Regions from separate parts of the Homo sapiens genome. Here region 2 is linked to region 1. Evidence: fine-mapped expression QTL. Tissue or cell type: subcutaneous fat. Region 1 holds a variant in brackets; the other region holds the start of a gene. All regions are shown on one strand. Distances are from middle to middle.

Evidence for each region. PIP is the estimated chance that this variant, and not a neighbour inherited with it, causes the effect.
Region 2: it holds the start of NDST1, and the variant in region 1 is fine-mapped to the expression of NDST1 in subcutaneous fat (GTEx, PIP 0.91).

Annotation. Positions count from the first base shown.
Region 1 is chr5:150,462,145-150,470,245 of GRCh38, reverse strand. No RefSeq gene overlaps it. Among named protein-coding and RNA genes, the nearest start is that of RPS14, 16 kb to the right of the region's middle. RefSeq lists an enhancer at 5,347-6,072. The variant G/A (reference allele first, on the strand shown) is at 4,078.
Region 2 is chr5:150,504,035-150,512,121 of GRCh38, reverse strand. NDST1 (N-deacetylase and N-sulfotransferase 1) reads right to left here and starts at 3,991. Exons shown (of 15, transcript NM_001543.5): 1 at 3,896-3,991. RefSeq lists enhancers at 1-132, 1,434-2,007 and a silencer at 221-515.

The DNA.
Region 1 (8,101 bases):
GTGTGGTGGTGTGTGCTTGCGGTCTCAGCTACTCAGGAGACTGAGGTGGGAGGATTGCTTGAGAACCAGAGGTCAAGGCTACAATAAGCCAAGATTGTGCCACTGCATTCCTGGGCGACAGAGCGAGATCCCATCTCAATAAATAAATACATACATACATACATACATAAAATTTTAAAAATAAGAAATATATTGTATTAAACCAACATACCCAAAATATCATTTTGACATGTAATTAATATAACGAAATGATTAATGAGATGTTTAAATTCTTTCTTTTGTGCTGAGTCTTCCAAATCCACTGTGTATTCTACTTAAAGCACATCTCAACTTGGACTAGTCACATTCTCAGTGCTCTATGACCACATGTGGCTAGCGGCTGCAGTGCTGGACAGCATAGTTTAGAAACCTTAAATCCTATGACTCACTTTTGTAAAATTCTAGGATGCTATGCCTCTGAGATTCTCGAATTCCACAGCATACCAAGGTTCTGAAATGCTATAACTGTGCTTCCACCAGATTAAAATGTTTCATGAACCACATTGTCTTTATTCAGTCTATCGGCGTTGGGCATTTGGGTTGGTTCCATGTCTTTGTTATTGTGAATAGTGCTGCAATAAACATACATGTGCATGTATCTTTAAAATAGAACGATTAAAAGAATTTTTTTTTTTTTTGAGATGGAGTTTCTGTCACCCAGGCTGGAGTGCAATGGTGCTATCTCGGCTCACTGCAACATCCGCTTCCTGGGTTCAAGTGATTCTTCTTCCTCAGCCTCCCGAGTAGCTGAGATTACAGGTGCACACCACCAGGCCTGGCTAATTTTTGTATTTTCATTAGAGACAGGGTTTCACCATGTTGATCAGGCCAGTCTTAAACTCCTGACCTCAGGTGATCCGCCTGCCTCGGCCTCCCAAAGTGCTGGGATTACAGGTGTGAGCCATCGCGCCTGGCCTATAATAGAATCATTTATATTCCTTTGGGTATATGCCCAGTAATGGGATTGCTGGGTCAAACGGTATTTCTGGTTCTAGATCCTTGAGGATGATTCCTGTCTTCCACAATGGTTGAACTAATTTACATTCCCACCAACAGTGTAAAAGCGTTATGAGATCATGTCCTTTGCAGGAACATGGATGAAGCTGGAAGCCATCATCCTCAGCAAACTAATACAGGAACAGAAAACCAAACACCACATGTTCTCACTCATAAGTGCGAGTTGAACAATGAGAATACATGGACCCAGAGAGGGGAAAAACACACACTGGGACCTGTAGGTGGGGTTTGGGAGGTCGGGGGAGGGAGAGCATCAGGACAAATTGCTAATGCATGTGGGGCTTAAAACCTAGGTGACAGGTTGATAGGTGCAGCAAACCACCATGGCACACGTATACCTATGTAACAAAGCAGGTTACATAGGTATACATGTTCTACACATGTATCCCAGAACTTAAAGTAAAAATAAACAAAAAAATTTAAAAATAATAAAATGTTTCATGAGCCCCAAATCTGCATTTGAAGGCTTCTACCCACACATGTTTTGTATGGAAAGAAATCCAGATCCCTGTACAGCCTGAGGGGTGGGGCGGGAGCAAGGAGCCCTCCTTGGCTGCCCCCACCATCTGGCCGGCCTGTGGCATAGGGGATGGGCATGCTCCTTGCAGAACTACCTCTCCTACCATCCCTCCAGCATGGCACCTCTCCATCCATGTGTGCCTGGAAGTGAGGGTCCTGCCTTCCAGTCCTCCTGGGAAGGGGGTGTGCCCCTGCCTCCTTCCCTTGGTTTCTGTCCACTCTGGGGCATCTGGGGGCAGCAGTGGCAGATGGAGCAGGGGAGTCAAAATCCCAGATGGAATCTCCTGAGGATGGAACTGATCTCCATTTGCTGAAGGCTGGATCCCTCAGGAGCCTGGGGAGGGCAGAAGTCAGAGGCCCGCGGTCTGGGGCTTGGAGAGCCAGAAGGGCTCTCTGAGGGCGTGTGATGGCGCCTTTCACAGTGCAGATGGGGAAACTGAGACCCAAGAACAGAAGGGGTTTCCCAAATTAGGCACAAGGTGAATGTCATGCTCTGCCAGAAGGAATGTCCCCTGGGTAGCCACAGGCTTCTCTTCCTACTCCCAAACTCCCTCTCCCATCACCACTTGTGAGGAAGTCGAGGCACAAACCCAGCATGGTGGACGTCAGGGAGGCTGCAGGAGGGCCCCCCCATAGCTATTGTGTCCAGGTGGGTGACTTTTCAGCTTTGGGATATGTCTTCGTGTCTTATGGTTTGGGCTGCTATAACAAAATAGACTGGGTGGTTTTTAAACAACATAAATTATTTCTCACCATTCTATTTTTTTTCTTTTCTTCTGCTTTTGAGACAGAGTCTTGCTCTGTCGCCCAGGCTGGAGTGCAGTGGTGCAATCTCGGCTCACTACAACCTCCACCTCCTGGGTTCAAGCGATTCTTGTGCCTCAGCCTCCCGAGTAGCTGGGATTAAAGGTGTGCATTACCACACCTAGCTAAATTTTTTTTTTTTTTTTTTTTTTTTGAGACGGAGTCTTGATCTGTGGCCCAGGCTGGAATGCAATGGCATGATCTTGGCTCGCTGCAACTTCTGCCTCCCGGGTTCACGCGATTCTCCTGTCTCAGCCTCCTGAGTAGCTGGGATTACAGGCACCCGCCACCATGCCTGGCTAATTTTTGTATTTTTAGTAGAGATGGGGTTTCACCATGTTGGTCAGGCTGGTCTCGAACTCCTGACCTCAAGTGATCTGCCCGCCTCAGCCTCCCAAAGTGCTGGGATTACAAGTGTAAGCCACTGCACCCAGCCTGTTTCTCACCATTCTAAAGGCTGGGAAGTCTGAGATCAAGGCTATGGCAGATTCAGTGTCTGGTGAGGGCTGGCTTCCCCATTTGTAGATGGCACCCTCTCACTGCATCCTCACATGGTGGAAGGGGTGAATGAGTTCCCTTGGGCCTATTCTATACGAGCACTAATCCCACTTATGAGGGCTCTGCCCTTGTGACCTAATCACCTCCCAAAGACCTCACCTTTTAGTATCATCACCTTGGGAGTTAGGATTTTAACATGGATTTAGGAGGCACACAAACATTCACACCATAGCAGGATGCTCATGTCAGGCTCAGAAACCTCCTGGTTAGAACCTTGCCCCAGGCTCACCCTTGACCCGGAACCATGGGTCCTGCAGAGGGTCTGGGGAATGGGTACTTGGCCACAGGCAGCAGCCTGGGTGAGATGTGATGAAGGCGGAGCTAAGTGCTGAGGGTCTCAATCAAAAATAATCAGCTTCCTTCTACATCTGCTCTGCTCTCCAGCTCTGGATTCCACTCCAAAGCCCTTTTGTAGCCACAGTCCCATTTGAACCTCACAAGCACCCAGGAGGAAAAGAAGGCAGGAGGACTTGACATCAGCACGTAAACTCCCAGCCAGAGGGCCAGTGTGAGAACTTCGCTACTGTTCCTCAACTCCATGCCATGCCTCTTCCTTTTTTTCTTTTTTTTTAGACACGGTCTTACTCTGCCACCTAGACTGGAGTACAGTGGTGCCATCATAGCTCACTGCAGCCTCGACCTCCTGCGCTCAAGCAATCCTCCCACCTCAGCCTCCCAAGTAATTGAGACTATAGACATAAGCCACCATACCCAGCAATTTTTGAAAATTTTTGTAGAGACAGGGTCTCACTATGTTGCCCAGGCTGGTCTTGAACTCCTGGGCTTCAGCAATGCTCCTATCTCAGCCTTCCAAAGTGTTGGGATTATAGACATGAACCACCATGCCTGGCCTATTCCCATTTTTACAGATGGGGAAACTGAGGCCCAGAGAGGGGCTATGACTTGTCCCAGGCTACAGAGCCAGAGGGAGGCCAAGTCTAAACTCCTGAGAGTCATAGGCATCACCTATTGAGGAAGCCCCCCACCTTGCTGCACTCCCAGGCACCCAGACCCTCGGCAGCCGAAGAGACAAACATCAGAGGTCACTGACAGCCACATTTTCCACGGGATGCTTCCAGGCTGGGTTTCCCCTCGGAGGAAGGCCCCAAGGTTGTTCCGCATGGTTAGGAGAACTGGGAA[G/A]GAAATGACAGAGATCCTGCCACAGTGGGCAACAGAAAACAACCTGGCCTTTGGCCTCTAGGGATCTGGCTCCGCCAAAGTCTGGTTTGGGGAGGGAGATGGGAGGCACAGCAGGAAGGCAGGCCTGGAATCTAGATTTGAAAAAGCACAAGCTTTGGAGTGAGATGGCCTGGATTCAAGTCTCTAGGGCTGCTACTGAGTGGCTATGTGGCCCCGTGTCCGTGGCTCCACCTGGGCTCCCTCCTCTACCTGGGCAATGCCCATTTCTGGTAAGAATCTGAGTGTGTATAAGCTAAGCCTATTGTTGCTGAATAAATGCTAGTTCTCACTCAAATGCCCCTCTGGGAAGCAATCAGGCCCTAGGGCCCCCCATCTGCCACTCTTTGCTGCCATAAATATGCTCCATAAATATTTATTGAATAAACAAATGAATAAATGAATGCTGCCTGCCCAAAATATAAGGGAAGGCTTTGAACCCATCTATCAGGAGACACAGCAGACTCTGACAGAACTTGCTGGGTGGCCTCATTTTTACAAGAATATATAATAATAACTAACCTTTCTAAAGCACTCACTACCTATCAGGCTTTGCTGGGAACTGCAGAGCACTCGGTTTTCCCAGCAGCACTATCAGGAGCTATGACTATTATCCCCGGGCTCCAGATTAGGAACACTGAGGCATGGAGAGGCCACAGAACCCTGAGGTCACACTGCTAGTTGGTGGCAGAGCCTAGACTTGGACTCAAGCAGCCTGACCCCAGAGCCCCTGTTCCTTGCTCTGGGATGGCTCCTGGGGCTTTTATTTTATTTTTATTTTTATTCTATTTAAGATGGAGTCTTGCCCTGTTGCCAAGGCTGGAGTGCAGTGGCATGATCTCGGCTCACTGCAACCTCCGCCTCCTGGGTTCAAGCGATTCTCCTGCCTCAGCCCCCCGAGTAGCTTGGATTACAGGCACCCATCACCACGGCTGGCTAATTTTTGTAATTTTTAGTAAAGACAGGGTTTCACCATGTTGGCCAGGCTGGTCTTGAACTCTTGACCTCAAGAGATTCACCAGCCTTGGCCTCCCAAAGTGCCGGGATTACAGGCGTGAGCCACCGCACCCAGCTCTGGGGGTTTTTAGCCTCCCCTTCCCGGCTTCCCGCTTTCTCGGCCAAGGACTCCTATGGGGTGAGACTCCCTTTCTCAGGTTGGTGCTGCTTAGGGCTTCCCAGCGGTCTTAGAGGCTCCTGCAAATCAGCCTTGGGGAGCGTATGTGGGAGATGAAGTGGGGGCTCTGCCCAGCCCGAGACTGTTGCTCAGGTCCTTTTTCAGAGACTAATTCTCTGCAGCTTTCTGGTTGCTTCCTGCCTCAGAGTGAGGCAGGAAGCAAGGCCAACAGGGATTTTGGCTCCAGCTCCTTTGTCCTCACTCAGCTCATCCTCCCCCTCCCCTACTCCAACTTCTGGATCAGCCTCTTTTTTGCCTAACCAGGGACCTTGAACTTAATGTTCACTCCCAGGCCGACTTCCCAGTGTGAGAGCAGCAACTCAGGGCTGGGAATCCAGAGACTGCCAAGAACTGAAGGGTGCTTTTCCTTCCGGGCGGGCAGATTTGGAGAAAGCCTGCCCTGAGATGGGAGAGATAGGGGTGGGTCTGGAATGTGCAAGCGGCCCACACCTGCACATCAATTTACAAAGAAGCTCCACGGTGATCCAGTGATCCTGTTGGTTCATCCCCAACCACCCCGGTTAGAGATGGGTTAGCTTGTTATCATCCCAATTGAACAGAAGAGGAAACAGGCTCAGGGGGATTTAGTGACCTGTTCATGACTATGTAGACATTTAGGGGCAAAAGCAAATGTTTACCCAATTCTGCAAAGATTGTATAATAATACTTTTTTTTTTTGTGGAGTCTTGCACTATTGCCCAGGCTGGAGTGCAGTGGCGCGATCTCGACTAATCCTGCCGCCACGCCTGGCTAATTTTTGTATTTTTAGTAGAGACGGGGTTTCATCATGTTGGCCAGGCTGGTCTCGAACTCCTGACCTCAGGTGATTCACCCGCCTCGGCCTCCCAAAGTGCTGGGATTACAAGTGTGAGCCACTGTGCCCAGCCATAATACTATTATTATTGCAAATATTTTCTAAGTTCTGACTGTGCCAAAAGCTTTCCTCTTATTACCTCGTTTAATCCTCTCAACAACTCTAAGAAGTAGTGATCCCTATTTTACAGATGAGGGAACTAACTGAGGCTCAGAGAAGCAAATCACCTGCATAAAGTACACTTAGTCACATCCACTAATCAGAATGTGAAAGCCAGATTTGAACTCAAGTTTGTCTGGCTCTAAAGTCTGAGGCTTCACAGGCAAGATTCTACCTCGGGTGGAGGAGTTATTGTTTGCCAATGCAGGGGGTGGGGTAAGCCTGACTTTACCCACCTTTTCATGATGCTGCTTCAGACCTGGTGCACACAGCCCTGGGAACCCTGCAGGCAGTGGGCCCGGAAGAATCTAACAGATACTGCAGAATTTGGGGGCACTCTGGGGCCATGTCTGAATGTGACCCCTCTCTGCACAGCAGCAGCCCCTGGTCTAGGCAAAGGTGGCCCTCTGACAGCCTCACAGATGAACTCTGCAAAAGCAGATTCATTCATTCACTCAACACCAGCCAAGAAGCCTTCACATCTCTACTCACAGACACCCAGTTATTTTGCCAACCTCCCAACCACGGCGAGCTACATAATTTGCAGGGCCCAAGTGCAAAATAAAAATGCAGAAGCCTTTGTTCAACCACTATTAAGAATTTCAGGGCCTGGTGCAGTGGCTCACACCTGTAATCCCAGCACTTTGGGAGGCCAAGGCAGGCAGATCACCTGAGGTCTGGAGTTCAAGACCAGCCTGGCCAACATACTGAAACTCCATCTCTACTAAAAATACAAAACTTAGCTGGGCATGGTGGTATGGGCCTGCAGTCCCAGCTACTCAGAAGCCTGAAGCAGGAGAATCGCTCAAACCTGGGAGGCGGAGGTTGCAGTGAGCAGAGAAAACGCCACTGCACTCACCAGCCTGGGAGACACAGCGAGACTCCGTCTCAAAAAAAAAAAAAAAAAAAAAAAAAAGAATTTCAGGACAGCAACCACAGTGCATTAACCAAGCATGGGCCCTGTGCAACTGTAGAGGTCACAGGCTCGTGGTGCCAGCCCTGTCCCCACCTCATCTCCCTTCTCCCTCTGGTTCTCCTCCTTACTCCTGGCCACTTTATCCTCCTTTCACATCCTCATGCTAAGCTCAGGGCTTTTGCAAAGACTGTTCTTCCTGTCAGGAACCCTTTCCCAATCTTCCCTCATAACTTAGTCCTTATGATTCAGGTCTCTGCTGAAATGTCACCTCCCTGGTGCCCCAGCCTAAAGTAGCCACCCACATAGCTCTCCATCCTGTCTGCAATTTATTCCCTTTATAGTCTGCACCACACTCTGTGACCTTATGTCTATCTGTTAGTTTACTGTTTACTGTCCATCTTCCCTGCTAGGATGTTGACTTGGGCAGGCATGGCCCACATCTGTCCTATTCAGCGCCGAATCCTCAGCGCCCAACCCAGTGCTTGGCTCACAGTATGTGTTCAATAATTATTTGTGGCCAGGTGTGGTGGCTCACACCTGTAATCCTAGCACTTTGGGAGGCCGAGGTGGGTGGATCATTTGAGGTCAGGAGTTCGAGACCAGCCTGGCCAACATGGTGAAACCCCGCCTCTAATAAAAATACAAAAATTAGCCAGTAGTGGCAGGCGCCTGCAGTCCCAGCTACTCGGGAGGCTGAAGCAGGAGAATCGCTTGAACCTGGGAGTTGGAGGTTGCAGTGAGCCAAGATTGCACCACTGGACTCCAGCCTAGGGGGTAGAGAGAGACTCTGTCTCAAAAAAATAAATAAAATAATAATAATTATTATTTATAAAACAATGAATGACTGAATGAATGAATGAATGGACACCAACATCCTAACAACATTCTCTCACCCTTATGTCTCTCCCTCAGCAACCCAGATGAA
Region 2 (8,087 bases), 42 kb before region 1:
AAGGATGTGAATGGGTGGGTACCTGGACTTGGGCAGGGACCTGAGCAGGGGAGGGCGTAGCAGTGGCTGCAGGCCTGGGGAACAGGTAGCCCCACATGCACCCAGGGCCACTCCCCATAGCTGATCCAGCCCCTCCCAGCCAGTCACACCCCCAGCACAGTCACATCATCACCCCCACCCAGCCACACCCCACAGCTTCCCAGCTCCACCAGCCACCCTACCACAGCCTGCCCCACCCACCACATCCAGCTCAGCAAGGAAAATCCTCCACATTTGCTTCCCAGCTGTGCGGGAGTTTCTCCAGCGTGATTACATCCCTGGGAGGCCGAGACCAGAAGCAAATCCCTTCCTCTGCTGGAATCTGCTACATGCCCCATCCCCCATCACCCCCACAGTGCTGCCTGGCCAGGAGCCAAGCTGCCGCCTGTCAGTCACCCCAGAGTCCAGGACCACCACCACCGGGAAAGAGACTGTTGGAGGTCTGGCTCAGAGTCGCAGGGCCACAGAGAGCACAGTCTACCCTGCAGTAAGCCCCTGGGGACACTGAGACCCAGAGAGAGGAAAGGACCTCCTGGCTTGTGCCGTCTGGTGTGCCCCACTCTCATTTACCTTGGTCCATTTTCTTGTCCATTAAAACCCTGTCCCTCCTCCTCCAATGCCAGCCTCAGCAGGGAGGTGAACAAGCCTGCTCTGGATTTCTAAAGTCCTGATTGAGCTCCCCTGCTCCACATCCCACCACGCAACACCAGGTATCAGTTGTTCTTGCAACTAGAACATGGGGCTCCCAACTTCACTGAAAGCTTTCCAAGGCACAAGCCATCTCCTACCCACAGCAGGTACTCAAGAGCCTTGTGCCCTTGCCAATTACCTTCCCCTCTGTGAATCTGCTACGCGGCATCTCCAAGCTAAATGCATTAATAACATTAACTTCCATTTATGAGACATGCCATGTCTGCGTTACATGCCATTATTTCAACCTTACCACAGCACCATGACCTAGATTCCCCCCATTATACGGATGAGAAACTGAGGTCCAAAGAGGCCAGTCACTTGCTGCAGCCCACAGAGCTAATAAGGGGGTGAATGGGAACTTCAGCACACAGCTGCTGGGCTCCAGAGCCTGGGCCCCTCATCCCCCATCTCCGCAGCCCCTCTGTGATCACCTAAGACAGCTAACATTTGCCAGATGCCCTGCACATCCCTTTCTCCATTCCTTTTCAATAGTTTTCTGTCTGTGTTTGTTTTCATCCATTTTATATGTGTTTTAGTATCACAAGCAGCCTCTAGTGATCTTTCTTGGAAGTAGCTCACAGATCATCCGTCAATCAACAAGGAAACAAAGCATTAAGCACTACTGGTTCACTCCCTGGTTCTCAACTTGTGAATCTGTTCTGGGTTCCCTGGCAGGGAAGGCCCAACAGAAAACCTCAGGAACTTAGACCTCACTTGTTGAGAATGTGTCCTTCTTCCAACAGGGCCTGAGTTGCGAGTTTACCTTTGTACCAGCTCTGAAAAAAAGGGCTTACCGAGCAAACATACCAGACAGCCTGGGGGTGGGGCTGTGTGGGGAACACGGCAGGTCACCTGCCACCCTCCCGTCCCAAGGACGGGACAGTCCTGACAGTCCCACTGAGGCTCTTCACGCACACCAAGGCTGTCAGGTCCATCACACAGAATGTTATGCAGTGGCCACAAATCTTCCCAAAATGGGGCTCTCTGCCCACCCTATCCCCAAATCTGCCTATGACAGAGTCAAATCCATCCAGAACTATTTTTTCCTTAGGCTCAGATCACAGACACTCAAAAGGAACAAAGCAGCATATCCCAACACATATCATAACCTCCCTTACTGGCGGCCAACGTTAAGCTCCTGCGAACATGTGGGGCTGTGCCAGGAGCCTTACCTGCTCCATCACGCTCAATCCTAACACCCTGAAAGAGGTGTCACTGCTATGAGCACTTTACAGACAAGGAAATGGAGGCTCAGAGAGGGTAAGCAACCGCTCGAAGTCACACAGCTGGGCAGAGGTGGAGCTAGGATGCCCCTCCCAGCCCACCCCACAGCCCCTGTTCGTTACCCTTCTGCAGTCCTACTTTCCACACCACTCCCAAGCCAGGTCTGCAGCCCAGGAGAGAGGCTTCCTGGAGGTGACCAGGCCCAGGGCTGCTGACCCAGCTTCTCTAGCTGAGCTTCAGCCTCCTGGGAAAGCCTGCACTGCAGAGAGGTGCACCATGGAACCCAGCAAGGCAGGACTTCAGCCAGAGGGTCCTCACGCCCCCATCAGACACCCCAATATAAGAAAGGGGGATGGCGGCTCGGGGCAGTGGCCCCTGCCTGTAATCCCAGCACTTTGGGAGGCTGAGGCGGGTAGATCACAAGGTCCTGAGATCGAGACCATCCTGGCTAACACGGTGAAACCCCATCTCTACTAACAATACAAAATTAGCCAGGTGTGTGGCACATGCCTGTAATCCCAGCAACTCCAGAGGCTGAGGCAGGAGAATCGCTTGAACCTGGGAGGCGGAGATTACAGTGAGCCGAGATGGCGCCATTGCACTCTAGCCTGAGCGAAACTCCATCTCAAAAAAAATAAAGAAAGGGGGGCCACCTCCTGCCCCAGGCAGAGGCCTCATGCTAAGGAAGAGGCAGGAGCGAGGGTCAGAAGCAGGAGATCTCAGCTAGCAGGGCACCGCAAAGGACAATGGTGAGCACCTCGCCTCACGGCCTGGCATGTGCCAGGCGCTCTACCAAGCACTTCCCAACCCTCACTTCATTTATTTGTCATTTATGCCCAGTGAAGTAAAAACAATTTTATCACACCCTGAGCTTCTCCCCTATCTGCCTCCCCTGCAGAGGAGCTGGGAAATGTGGGTCACCACTAGCCCCCACCCTCCCGCATGCCCGACTCCAGGCCTCAGATACACCCTGAGAGATTCCAAGGCACAGGCAGACTCAGGGGCCTCCATCTCAAGGATGCAGAAGCCAAAATCCATGCGGGCCTGGAAACCACAACAGCCTCCCAGTCCTTCCCTCCCAGTCATCCCCTTCCTCTCATCAGGGGATGAGAGGTCATTGTCCCCTGAATGAGCCAAGCTTCCCCAGCTTGTAAGGTCAGGCAGAATGCTGGCAGGAAGACAGAGGCAGGGGGTGCCACAGCCTCCATTGCCGCCTGTGAGTCTCTGGGCAAGTCCCTTCCCTTCTCTGAGCCTCAGTTTCTGCAACTGCAGTGAGGGGTATGGACTAGAGGAGAAGTCTGTGACCTTCTGGGGGTTATAGAACCCTTTGAGAATCTAATGATGGCTATTAGCAGATTCTCTCCCCAGACACACAAATTCAGAGTGGTTGTGACTGGCCCCCATCAAAAGCCAAGTTAAGAACATGGAAATTCTCTAGGGGCCCCTCTGGCTTTGACAAGCCATGGCTCTCACAGTCTAGACAGGACCAAAGCCACAAACACAACATCTGAGAGCCCTGGGATCTCACCATTTCAGCTTCCCCCGTGGCCCTGAAATAAATCTTTAAACTCTTGGACCTGCTGGCTTCAGGTGGATTTGTGGACATGCCTAGCTGTCTGGAGAAGCCACAGGAGAAACTGAGCCCTTCCTTCCCATCCCTCAGCCTCCTCCTCCTTCTCCTCCATCAGGAATCTGCCAGGTCAGCCTAGACCTCTCCCTGGGGCAGTTCCGGGAGCTGCTTCTGATCTGGAATGAAGGCAGGACCCAGTGCCAGGCTCAAGTGCCAGCCTGTACCCCCAGATCCCTCCTGGGGACACACACACACACACACACACACACACACTCAGATGGACCTGGAAGGACTGGACAGGGCAGGGGGCCAGGGACAGTGGTCAGAGTGGACAGGAGCCAGCGAGACAATGACCAGACCCAGACCCACCGGAGCTCCAGGCAGTGGCGTGAGGTTCCTCTTCACTTCGCCACGCCCTCTCGAATGTCCTCTCCTTAACACGGCTGCACCTAATCCCAGGGCCAGGAAAAATGGCATTACTGTTGGCCCAGTCCCCTCCCCAGGAGAAAGGGAAGGCAGAAGCAAGGGAGGGAGGTGGCCCTAGAGCACCCTGCGCCACCAACCACGTTCCTAGAAACCTCCACGCCCCTTCATGCCACCTCCCTTGTCAAGGCCTCCAGCCCCTACCTCCTTAACCTCAGAAAGAGGATGTCCTCCTCCGATTCTGCCCCGTGCCCAGGGAACCACTGGCACCTCGCCTGCCTCACCCAAGCCCTGCCTGGAGGAGCCTTCCACGGGAAAGGAAAAAGCATGTCCCTGACCCTCATGCTAGTGGGTCTTCTGACCCTCTCAAGAGAGGTAGCAGCCAACAGCAGGAGGAGCACTCACTGGCAATAAGGATAACTGGGTCCTGGTTCCAGCCCTGGCCCTTCCCCCTCCAGACCTCAGTTTCCCCACCTGTCCTGAGAAGAAGAGGAAGGACTGGTATGCCCAGCTGGAGGGAAAAGTGTCTATGATGCTGGCTTTTGGCCCCTGGCCCCACCCAGCTCAGCTGCCAGGCCCTTCCCTGTGCCCCACCCTGCAGAGAAGGAAGAAAGGTGACCGGCAAAGGTGTGGAGGGTGTAAGAATCCATGCTGGAGCCTCAAAGTGCTAGAGCTGAAAAGGGTCTTACAAAGACGAGACCCAGAGAAGAGAAGCAACTTGGCCACGGTCACACAGAACACTGGAAAAGGGCCAGGCTGGCCAGGGCTTGCTTCTTGACAGCAAATGCTTAAAAGCACCCAGCTGAAAAGGTATTTGCCTTCTTAGAGGATGCCAAGGAGAGCACAAGGCAACCTGACAACAGTAGAACTGCAGGCTCTGAGAGCTGCAGTTAAAAAAAAAAAAAAGGTATGTTTATACGTGGGGCTTAAGGATGGAGGTTGGGCTGGCTTTCCAGGCTCCTCATGTCACACCACGTGGGTGGCCAAGGGTCCTGCCAGCCACAGGGAAATCCTAGGAGCCCCTTCCAGGGATTAGCAGCTTTGGCCACCTCTCAAGAAGTCACCTAAGGCCCAGCAGGCAGGCCCAGCAGTGGTGACAGAAAGAATGGCTCAGATGGACACTCCAAGACTAGCCCACTCTGGAAGATGCCAGAGCCTTGGAGAGACTGAAAATCCCCCAAGCCCCGTGGCCAGTGAGGACGGAAGCCAGGTGGGCTAGGGATAACACAGAGGAAGGGAAAAGCTTTGAGCCATCTGGAGCCACAGAAGCCCCCTAATCTCCTAGAGGCCTGGTGGGTACAACACAGGGCCTGCTGAGACCAAGGAGGCTTCACCGAGGGCCCACATGAAAGCAGCCAGTCCCTGTAGACTTGCTGGGGCTTGTCATCACGACAAAAGCTGGCCACCAACACGCCTTGGGGTGTTAAGGGACTCAAAGTACTTACATGGAGGCGCAGCTGGCAGGGGGAGGGGGCAGAAGGTGGGGAGAGGTGGGGGCAAGTGGGCCCGGCTTTCTCTAGGACACAGACAACAGCTAGAGAACAGAAACGTGGAGCAAAAAGCACTGGGTGACCTACTTCACAGAGGCTCCTTTTAAAGAGGAATAGGAGGCCTCAGCGAGACTCTAAAAAGTACCTCGCAGGGGTCCAGAACAGTTCATGGGGCCAGGAGACCAGGGTTCCAGTCCTAGATCAGGAACTCACCCAGGACTAGGCTCAGGTGAGGCCCGCGAGGAGCCTTTTAGAAGGTGCTCACTGCCAGGTGCAGTGGCTCACGCCTGTCATCCCAACACTTTGGGAGCTCAAGGCAGGTTGACCCAGGAGTTTGAGACCAGGAGTTCAACACCAGCCTGGGCAACATGGCAAAACCCCTTCTCTACAAAAAAAAATTACAAAAATTAGACAGCGTAGTGGCGTGTGCCTATAGTCAGTTATATGGGAGGGCTGAGGTGCGAGGATCACCTGAGCCCAGGAGGTTGAGGCTACAGTAAGCCCAGATTGCACCACTGCACTCCAACCTGTGCGACACAGCTAGACCCTCTCTCAAAAACAAAGGTTCTTATTCTCCACAATGTGCAAGCACACAGCGGGCACCTCCTGAGACGCTGCACTTAGATGCCTCACTTGCCTCATCCTAGGCCCGGCCTTCTTACACAACCTGCCTGTGACCTCAGGCAAGTACCACTCCTTTCTCGGCCTCAGTTTGGTCACATAAAACAGAATCATGAAGCCAGGCATGGTGACACGAGCCTGTAGTCCCAGCTATTCAGGAGGCTGAGGTAGGAGGATTGCTGGAAGCCCGGGCATTCAAGGCCGCAGTGAGCTACAACTGCACTATGGCACTGCAGCCTGGGAGATACAGCAAGACCCCATCTCTAAAAAAAATAAAATTTTAAAAAACGAGTTAATTTAAAAAATTGAATCATGCCATATGATTCCATAGACCCTCCTAAATCTAAGCTGGGTTATTCTGTAGGGAGCATAACCGACCTCTGCAGCAAATCCCCGAAATGGGCACAGTGGCCCCAGCTTCCTGCCATCGATAACCTGTCAGTCACCACGTTGTCAGTGACCACGTTCCAGGCAGAATACACATTATACAACCACCTGATGCCATTATGTTCTGGGCTCTTTGTTAAATGCTTGGCCTCTACTTGATCATGGCCTCATTTTACAAATATGGAGCCTGAGGTCCACAGAGATTAAGCAACTTGCTTAAGGTCCCTGTTGGGAAGTGCTTAGCTGAGATTCGAACCAGCATCTGTCTGGTTCTTAATCCCCACATTCCATGGCATCAGCCACAGATAACAGAAAACCCACCAGGGCTGGGGAAATGCCATCAGCTCTTTGCACCTCCCACATTTTCTAGCATATAATGCCGGGGCTAATGTGAAGGCAGGCTGGTGGACAGCCGGGAGCAGGTAGGCAGGGATGGGGAAGTCCGTGTGGGCACTAAGCATTCCACAGATGAACCAGCCTCCAGCCCGGCCAGCTGCCCACCACTGTGGTTACAATGCCCTCATCGCCATCAGCACACCACAGCCACCGCTGTGCCATTTTTAAATCATTACACAGATGCAAAGCATTTTCACAGGCATTGCTGCGGTATCACATGCCAACTTTATTAAAGTATAGCAGGGATTTCTTCCCCCTTTCTCAGAAAAGGAAAGTGGGGTTTCCAGAGGATAAGTGGCTTCCCAACACGCACACAGGAACACAATGTTTGAGATGAACTTGGAGCCCACATCCTCTGCCTCCCAGTCCAAGCTTGGGTCTACTCCTCCATGCTCACGACTTTCCAGTTCAACCAACTGATGGGCCTTTGGGACAATGATGACCATTTCTGAGAGTTTACTTGGTACCAGGTGTTGTACTCTGCATTTCACACGTTATCCCATTTAACTGTCCTGACATTCCTATCAACTAAGTATTGCTACTGTTTTCATTTCACAAAGACAGCAGCTCAGAAAAGTAGGGTATCATGCCCAAGGTCACCAGGCCAGGAAGGGGCAGAGCTGGCATCCAAACAGAGTTCAGACTGGCTCCAGAGCCTGGGGCCTAAACCTCATGCTGCACAGCTCTGTCGGGGAGACTCTGTCACGGGCAGTCAGTGGAGGGGACAGGAGGTAGACACATCAAATAGTGTGTGCATCTGGCAGATTATGGCAAGATTACGATAATGGAGGACAAACAAAGCTCTTAGGGAGCCCACAAGAGGGAGGTTGTTACAAACGTCCAGGCAGAAGGCCAGGAGTCTGTGCAGAGGACACGGAAACAGAGGGGAGTGGCAGATATGAGGGAGGCGGCCTTGTGAGACCTTGGTCAAGTGCCTTGCTCTCTCCAGACCTCAATTTACCAAGCTGTTAAGAAAAGTCCTTGGAACATCTCCAGAACCCCCACCATCCCTGAAGACTCCTGGGCCCTGGGAAAATAAGCAATGCCCGGTGACAGCCTGGCTATGAGCCCTGGGGACTCTGAAATGTCCTTGGCTGTCCTGGCACAGCTCAACTGCTGGGAAACAGGCTTGCAGAAGCAGAGGGCTTGGCTGGCATGCCTGGGCACCAGTGAAGTGTGGGTTCTGAAGGGGCCACATTCCACCCATTGTCAACCTCTCCACGGCTCTGCTGGAGCAAGCACCA